Linked DNA regions of Homo sapiens: region 1 is reported to be linked to region 2. Evidence: microRNA targets listed by miRTarBase, many of them from high-throughput screens and not tested one by one. Region 2 holds a microRNA gene; the other region holds the end of a gene's coding sequence.
What was found. Region 2 holds the annotated microRNA hsa-miR-128-1-5p (CGGGGCCGUAGCACUGUCUGAGA, at 2,082-2,104, opposite strand). A microRNA usually pairs through its seed, bases 2 to 8, with sites in the 3' UTR of a target mRNA and lowers its output. Matches are read on the target gene's strand: a 7mer-m8 pairs with bases 2 to 8, a 7mer-A1 pairs with bases 2 to 7 and ends in A, and an 8mer does both.

Region 1: the mRNA of TOR4A is a reported target of hsa-miR-128-1-5p. Seed matches in the 3' UTR shown: 7mer-A1 at 1,053-1,059, 7mer-m8 at 1,188-1,194, 7mer-m8 at 1,947-1,953 and 7mer-m8 at 2,159-2,165.

What each region holds. Positions count from the first base shown.
Region 1 is chr9:137,279,182-137,283,567 of GRCh38, forward strand. TOR4A (torsin family 4 member A) reads left to right here. Exons shown (of 2, transcript NM_017723.3): 2 at 1-3,460. The coding sequence ends at 780. Among named protein-coding and RNA genes, the nearest start is that of TOR4A, 3.6 kb to the left of the region's middle. RefSeq lists a silencer at 1,771-2,010.
Region 2 is chr2:135,663,129-135,667,514 of GRCh38, reverse strand. MIR128-1 (microRNA 128-1) reads right to left here and starts at 2,118; the gene lies at 2,037-2,118. The region is part of intron 19 of R3HDM1 (R3H domain containing 1); the gene reads right to left. LOC124907893 (a long non-coding RNA gene) reads right to left here. Exons shown (of 2, transcript XR_007087245.1): 1 at 958-4,386. RefSeq lists an enhancer at 2,701-2,800.

The sequences.
Region 1 (4,386 bases), not on the chromosome of region 2:
CCCGCTGCCGTATCGCGCATCGTGGCGCTGATGCGGGACTACCTGGCCACGCATGTGCACAGTCGTCCGCTCCTCCTGGCGCTGCACGGGCCCAGTGGCGTGGGCAAGAGCCACGTGGGCCGCCTGCTGGCGCGCCACTTCCGCTCGGTGCTGGAGGACAGCGCGCTCGTGCTGCAATACCATGCGCGGCACCACTGCCCCGAGGCGCGCGCCGCACAGGACTGCCGCGAGGAGCTGGCGCGGCGCGTGGCCGACGTGGTGGCGCGGGCCGAAGCGGAGGAGAAGACCCCACTCTTGGTGCTGGACGACGTGGAGCTCATGCCGCGGCCGCTGCTGGACGAGCTGCACGGCTTCCTGCAGCCGCAGCGCTCCCACCACTTCCACAACGCCATCTACGTGCTCCTCAGTGGCGCGGGTGGCGCCGAGGTCACGCGCTTCGTGCTGCAGAACGCGTCCCGCGCGCTGCCCCTGCGCCCCGACGGCTTCCGCAGTGCCGAGGCCGCAGCGGCGCAGGCGGAAGAAGACCTGCGCGCCAGCCTGCTGGCTGTGCTGTCCCGGGAGCATCCGCTGTGGCAGGCCGCGGCCATCGTGCCGTTTCTGCTGCTGGACAAGCGGGATGTGGTCAGCTGCTTCCGGGACGAGATGGCGGGTGAGGGCTTCTTTCCTGACCAGGCCCGCGCGGAGAACCTGGCCGCGCAGCTCAGCTTCTACCGCGTGGCTGGCCGCGAGTTTGCCGTCACCGGCTGCAAGCAGGTGGTGGCCACGGTGAACCTCCTGTAGTGGAGGCGCAGGACGGGACGTTTGGGTTGATGGCGGCAGTAGGAGGGCGACCAGGGACCTTGTGGGCTGGTGCAGGCCCCTGAGGTTTCTAGTGAATTTGTGGCTGCCCGGCTGGTGGGTGCGGATCAGCTTGGAGCTCTGCTTCCAGGTCCACACCCGCCTCAGAGTCCGGAGTCTGTCCCTGGGGGCGGCAGGACAGCAGCCACCTCCCTCCCAAACTTGCCCATTGCCCTGCTGGGCGTCCCAGGCATGGTCTGGTGCGTTCTCCCTGTGGCCCCAAGAGGTGGGTTCCCATGGTACAAGGATGATCTCAGGGCCAACAATTCCCGGGGTCACACAGCTGGGACGTGACCCCGCCTCTTGGGGGTGGTCGCGTGTTGCTCAGTGCTGAAGTGGGGTTCTCATTCCGGCCCCCCTGGAGATGACCCCGGAGGAGGCCACAGCCAACCATGACAGTGCTGGGGCTCTGGCTGCCTTCTCCACCCACCCCACCCCTCACTCAGGTCGTGTTTTCAGGAGCTCAAGGCTGGAGTGTCTTGACAGTAAGGGGAGGGGAGCGGAGGCGGAGGCGCCTCAGGCAGCCTCTCCCCCTCCTTCCTGGACCCCCCAACCCCGGGCCCGCCAGCCCTGGCTTGGGCTTACTGGGTGACCGAGAGCCCGCGGGGCAAGCGGGAGGTGCCTAGGCCTCTCCCCATCCCCCTCTTCTCCGCACGTGGGACCCTTAGCCCGTGGCCAGTCCCCTGGTCACCACGATTGCGCGACCTCCCTTTCCCTGGGGCCTTTTGTGCCCCGAGTTCCGCCCACCCGCACCCTCTGCGCAGAGCGCCCTCCCCACGCCAGTCGACCCCACACCCCACACTCCCCACGCGCCGCCTCCCGGAAGCCCTCCTGGACGCCTCCCGTGGATGGGCCCACCGCGCCCACGGGGGCTTTAGGGGAAGGTGCTTTGGGCGTTTTTTGCGCCATGTCTCCTCGGGGCCGGCGGTTGCCTCGGGACGGTTCTCGCCTCCTCCCACAGCCCCGGTGTCTGGGACGCACCCGGCAGCCCCGCTGCTGCCGCCTTGTGGCGCGCCCGGCCCAGCCGGTGGCTTCTGTGGTCGCCGGGGGCTGAGCGCGCGGCTGGGCCCTGAGTCCCCCAGGCCGCCCCGATCCTCTGTCCCCGCCGCCGGCCCCGCTGCAGTCCCAACCCGGGCCTGCCCGGGAGGAGCGCAGGGGCGGCGATGACCAGTCCCGAAAGGGGCTCAGAGGGCAGCGAGGAGGTTTCACGCCGGTGCGGGGCGCCGTCGAGGTGGGGGCACCGCGAAGGTGGAGGCGGGGCCGCGCCGGAAGCCCCGAGTCGAGCGCACACGGCGGGCGCCCCTGGCAAGTGGGACTCCTCCGGCCCCGAGGCCTGAACTCAGCCCGGAGACCGCGCCCACCAGCGCCGGTGTCCCCGGAGGGGCCCCGCTAGTTCCCTGAGCAGAGGTCCTGCGGCTTCCCGGAGGGTGTCCTGTTCTCTCCCCCGCCTCGCATCCATTCTCGCCCTGGTGGTTGGTGTCTGTGGTCGGGGGCGAGGGCCGTCTAGTGGAGACGGGGATTCAGGCCGCTTGAAAGTCTGGGATCTCTGGGCGGATGGCAGCGGCTCCGCGGAGCTCGAGCTCGGCGCGCAGGTCCTGGGCCCAGGGCGGGAGCGCTAGCGAGAGGGCTGCCCCGTCCTGCCCAGAGGGTCCTGAGGACTCCCGCTGCTCCTGGAGTCTTGGGGAGGGGTCCGGCTCCACGGGGTGGGGGTGGGGGCTACCAGGAAACCTTTGCCTCCTGGGGCTGTGCAGGACCGGCTAGCCAGCGCTGGGAACCAGGGCTGAGTTCAGCCCAGCTCTGTCCACCCCAACCCCAGGGCTAGGGGAAGGAGCTGGGAGAAGGAGCCCCACCTCTCCCAGGCGAGTATCTGTCCCAGGAGCCCACACAGAGGGACACCCAGCTCTGGTCTGGCCTTCGTGTTGGCTTCAAGGTGGTAACAGAGAGAGCTGCAGAGTGGGGGTGTGTTTGCCAGTCCCTGCATGGGTGAATGTTGGGGTGCCCACTGCTCCCCAGGCAGGACCCCCAGGACTGTCAGCTCCCCTTCCCACAGAGCACCCACCTGGAGGTGTCACCTGCCGGCAAGCGTGGGCCATTCATCCACCTGTCAGTCAACAACACCCGCTGAGCATCGGCTTGTATCAAAAGGTCCAGACCTAAGGGGAAATTTTATCTCTTTCTTTCTTTCTTTCTTTTTTTTTTGACACAGAGTTTTGCTCTTGTTGCCCAGGCTGGAGTGCAATGACACGATCTCGGTTCACTGCAACCTCTGCCTCCTGGGTTCAAGCGATTCTCCTGCCTCAGCCTCCCGAGTAGCTGGGATTACAGGCGCCCGCCATCACGCCCGGGTAATTTTTTTGTATTGTTGGTAGAGACGGTGATTCACTATGTTGGCCAGGCTAGTCACGAACTCCTGACCTCGTGATCCGCCCACCTCGGCCTCCCAAAGTGCTGGGATTACAGGTGTGAGCCACCGTGCCCGGCCTCTTTTTATTTATTCCTAAAATATTACCTTGAGGCCAAATTCTGCGCTTAAGGAGAATGTGCACCAAGTGCTGGGGTGGGGGCTGGTAATAAACGAGGCCACAAATCATGCTTGTTAATAAATTGTGTGGTTCAAATCTGACGACCTACTGTTTGGTTTGTTTCTTGTCTGTCTGGTCTGTTAATAATTGAGGAGGATGCTGAAATCTTTCCCTAATTGTAGATTTATGGTAGATTTATCCATTTCTCTCTAAGCTTCTATTTAATAGGACATGCTGATCGAGAGTTTTGTTTTTTGTTTTGTTTTGAGAAACTTCTGAATGGGGAAGTGGTGTGGACCTGGAGGCTGATGGAAGGATTGGGGCTCACATGCAGTCTGCAGCTCAAACATCCGGGCTTTCCAGGAAATCCATAAATAACTAAAGTATTTTCTTTAATTGCCCTGGACAGGTGCTGAGGGCAGATGACCCAGGCTGGACATGCGGGAAGTTGCCAGCTAACCAGATGATCCCAAATGTCATAGCTGCTCTCCCTCATATGTGCAGAAACTGTTTCTGTGCAGTTGTCTCTGAGTTATTCTTTGACATCTGCCATGTGTCATTACGTAGTAACCCTCGTGATCTGTGTGTGCACATCATAATGACTTTTTTTTTTTTTTTTGAGACAAGGTCTCGCTCTGTCACCCAGGCTGGAGTGCAGTGGTGTGATCTCCACTCACTGCAGCCTCCACCTCCTGGGTTCAAGTAATTCTCCTGCCTCAGCCTCCTGAGTAGCTGGAATTACAGACGCCCACCACCACACCCAGCTAATTTTTGTATTTTTAGTAGGGACTCAGTTTCACTATGTTGGCCAGGCTGGTCTCGAACTCCTGACCTCAGGTGATCTACCCATCTCAGCCTCCCAAAATGCTGGCATTACAGTTGTGAGCCAACGTGCCTGGCTTCTCTTTTCTTTTAATAGAGACAGGTTCTCTCTGTCATTCAGGCTGGAATGCAATGGCGTGATTGTGGCTCACTACAGCCTCGACCTCCTGGGCTCAAGCGATTCTCCCACCTCGGCCTTCCAAAG
Region 2 (4,386 bases):
ATAGGAATTTACGTCAATATTGTGGGAAAGCCTCTATTTTGTAAAGTAAGAAATGCCAATAGTAAGTGATACCAAACAACAAAATAAATATCCAGATCTCAACATAGATTTTTTTTTTTAAAACACTACCATTCTGTTTTGTTAAAGGACTGCACTGTTGCAATATTATCCCATTTCTTTCAGCACTTTCAGAGGAAAGCACAATCAATTCTGCAAGCTAAGAGAACTAGGACAATATAAACTGATGGTTCAGGAACTTCCCTGGAGGGCTCCACAGAATGTTCTATTTTTAACTCTCACTTTAACCAAGAAGAGAGCAGGAAGGAAATGCAGTGCTCAGCACAAAAGTATTGAACAGGCATTAACAGGCTGATTTTATTTTATATAGGTGATCTGAACTAGCATTTGTTCTAAAGGAAAGCATTCTTAATAACACAGAAATAATCAGAAAAATTACAAAAAGTATTAAAGAAATGCTTAGAATACCCATGAATCTAAGGTTATTTCACTTAATAGTACCTATTAATTTTTTTTCCAGACTGTGCTTGTACAATAGAAGCACTGTGAAGGTAGTTTTCTTTTTTTTTTTTTTTAAAGATGAGCCATTTTACTAAAGCCAAATTTATTTGTAACTAGGCATCTACAAGACCAAATTGTTAAAACCTCAAGCTTATAATCTTGGGCTTCTGTCTGTGGCACTATTTTAGTAGGTGGGCAAGTTCAACTAAAGCCAGCCCCATGGGTGTATTTGGAAGGAGATGCAATTGCCATCACACTTGATTATCCCTTCTCATCTCTCATCCCCTCTTCTCTCACTCCTGTGCCTGAAATAAACATATACATATACAAAAACCAATTCTAACAAAAACAGTCACACAGAGTTTATTGCTCACAGCTATTTAAAGAACTATTCCATGGAAGAGTCTATACAACTCAAGGAAATCTGTGGGTACTTACCAGATATATTTGGCTCCAGATTTCAGTGGCGGCAGGTTAATGGAGAAGGGAAAAGGGAAATAGGTGGATTTGTAGGTATTATACAATGTCTGAATCTATGCTGAATCACACAATACATACTAAGAAATGCTCACAGAAATCAATGAAAAAACAAGAATAGCCAGAGCCACTACCTAGTAATTTACAAATACAAAATTCCTATTACTTGGATTGAAAGTTGTCAGTAAAGAAATTGACTTTGTGCCTTGAGTCCCTATTTGACATAGCCGACTCTCCTATCAATAAGCCCCCTCACCTGCTTACCCAGTAGTGCTGACTTTTCTTTGCTCGCCTTTTACACCCTAGTTACTCTTAAATTTGTGCCTTCAAATTCTGTCAACAATATGCACACATTGAAGACTGTTTATCCTAACAAGTTTCTTCCATAGTGTCGTTCATCAGGATCCTACCATAGTCTGCTGGTAACAAAGCTTAATCAACTTGGAACCATATGATTCTGGGTTATCTGGAAAGCTAAGACTAAAGATATAATACATTGATAATCTTTGAAGTTATCAAATGGTTGCAAAACTAAAAGTATAGTTTCACAGAATCATTTTGCTTTCCACAGGTATGCAACAACATCATCGTTTGGAAAAAAAAATTAAATTATATCGTTGGTAAGAACCGAGACCAAGTAGCTTCAAATGCATTTAGGTGTATTAGGTCCGTTTGATGTCATGCTTTCATATATAACAATATCCCTAAAAAGTTGTGTAGCAATAGGGAGAGACATATTTGACTTCTGCTAATGAGTTTGGTATGCTTAAAACATTAAGCTTTTTAGATAAGCTCAAAACCAAACTGAATTTGTCATCCAAATCTACTTTGGAAAAGAAATAAGCAATAGCTTTCACAAATTTTTAACAGGTAAATTATATTAGGCCAAAGATGTCACTTAAATTCTAATCCCTATTTCTGAGTATGATGCATGATTTAAAGGTATTACAATTAATGAAAAATATAAACAAATGTTAACACCTTCATACAGCATTAAAAAAAGCAAAAAAGCAGTGGAAACCTGAGTAAAAAGAAGCCAGGAAGCAGCTGAAAAAGAGACCGGTTCACTGTGAGAAATGTAAACCTCTCAGACAGTGCTACGGCCCCGAATCCAACAGCTCAGGAACAAGGCCAATTATTGCAAAATATTAAATGTATATGGTGAAGCTACAAACTTGTCAAGAGTCATAAGAATAATAAAAGCTACACAGAAAACAGCTAGGGCTTTGTAAACCTAAAATCTTCACTATAATTACTACCTGCAGAAAGTTTCTTTATACTATACCACACTCCTTATATGCAGTGTACTTCACAGTATTCAAAGCATACATTTTATGATAAAGGTTTAAAGTAATAAATCTTTATTAGTGAAACTGGTAAGTAATCTGATCTTTTGAAATAGTTGCTTTCATTGACTCCAGTTATTGACAGTTGGTTGCCAAGCTGTTACAAACCAATTCTCTATTATTCTACCTTTTAGAACTAGAAATGACTCACATGAGACACAAAGAATTATGGAGTTTTACAGTACACAGAGGCTTCAACAGACAACACAGTAAAAATTCCATACTTTGCAAATGAGTCCAACTGAAACTCAGTGGCTTTAAGTGATATGCCTAACACCAGTTACAAATGACTAAGGGCCATCAGGATTCTGACTTTTATTTTGTTGTTCTTTCCCATTATACAGTGCATTGTTCAGAAAGTCTTATGTGTGTAGCCAGGGTTTCTTCTGTTTCTGTTGACAGGGGTTTACTCAACCTTGTTTTGAATGAACAGTTCAGTAGTTTCACATTCATAACAAAAGACTAGTACATTCATTTCCCCAGCAGTAATGTTAGTCCTGATTTCAGTTGTGGTCCACTGGGACACATGGATAAAAGACCTAGAGCATTTTATCCTTGAGATATTTCCCCATCCTCCTCCCTATCCACCAAAGGAAAAATAATGAAAGATCCTGTATTTCTACTGCCCATACCCTATCTGGTCTAAAAATACTTTGCTCAGTTGGGCTTGTTAATTTAGGGCAAAATTTCTTTAAGTTCAAATACAAACTTTTAAACATTACTTGTGCCACAGTGAAAAAAAATTGCTCCAAGTCTACTAGTGTTTTCATTATTTGGTTGAATAATTAGTTTCACCCTTTTATGTAATTAAAAAAAAACATGCTTCTTGACACTGTGGGGTAAGCAAGTGTTGTTTGACAAGAAATACAAATATAAGAGATATGAAAAAGTATTTCTCATTTTTAATCAGATTGGGATAGTAGAATGTAGAGAGGTAAGAAAATAAAAACCAAAAGGAAACCCAGAAGTATGTTTCCATATAAAAATGTAAATTATGAGACAGTAATTGCTATATACCTGTAAAAAAACTCAAAAACAATAAACTATCATGTTAATTTCCCAGTACATTTTACTTTTCTACACTAGGGCACATACAAACATAAATGCACACTTTTCTGTTAAGTTTTTTTTTTTTTTTTTTGAGACAGTCTCACTCTGTTGCCCAGGCTGGAGTGCAGTGGCGCCATCTCAGCTCACTGGAACCTCCGCCTCCTAGGTTCAAACGATTCTCCTGCCTCAGCCTCCCGAGTAGCTGGTATTACAGGTGTGCGCCACCATGCCCGGCTAATTTTTTTTGTGTATTTTTAAAGTAGACACAGGGTTTCACAATGTTGGCCAGGCTGGTCTGAAATTCCTGACCTCAGGTGATCCACCCGCCTTGGCCTCCCAGAGTGGTGGGATTACAGGTGTGAGCCACCGTGCCTGGCCTTCTGCAAGTTTTGACATAAAAATTAATGATGAGCTAACTATAAAAAAGTCTTTAGATTATAACTTTTAAAAAAGAGTTCAAATCCCCACTAATTCTATGAAAAGGTTCAATACAATTACCAACACAACAGTTGGCACTGGCCCTGCTGAACTTTTCTTTAAAGGAAAATTTTCTATGATACTTATTAGCATAACAAAATTCCTTTCTCTTTTAGATAAGAATGCTTTGAGGATTTATTCCTTTTATTCTTCAAACTGAATGAGTCAACTAACTTAAGCTGTAAGTTAAGAGGATACTATATAAAACAGCTGAAAGGACAAGTCTAGCTTTTATAAAGTGTTATATTATGACTGACTCATAAGAGTCAAACACAATGTCAAACATTTTTCAAAGACATGATTCTCTTTTTTGTGCCTGTAGCACTATCCAGATGCAACCTGATTTATTGTTTCCTCCTTCTCATCATAACTAGCATCAGAGAAAACCCCATAGTTAAAAATATGACCAATGATAAACACATGCTATCTGTCACATAGATGTTTTCACCTCCAATCAGGCATATTTAGTTGAATTCTATTAAGTGTCATATTTTTTTTTTTTTTTTTTTTTGGCAGA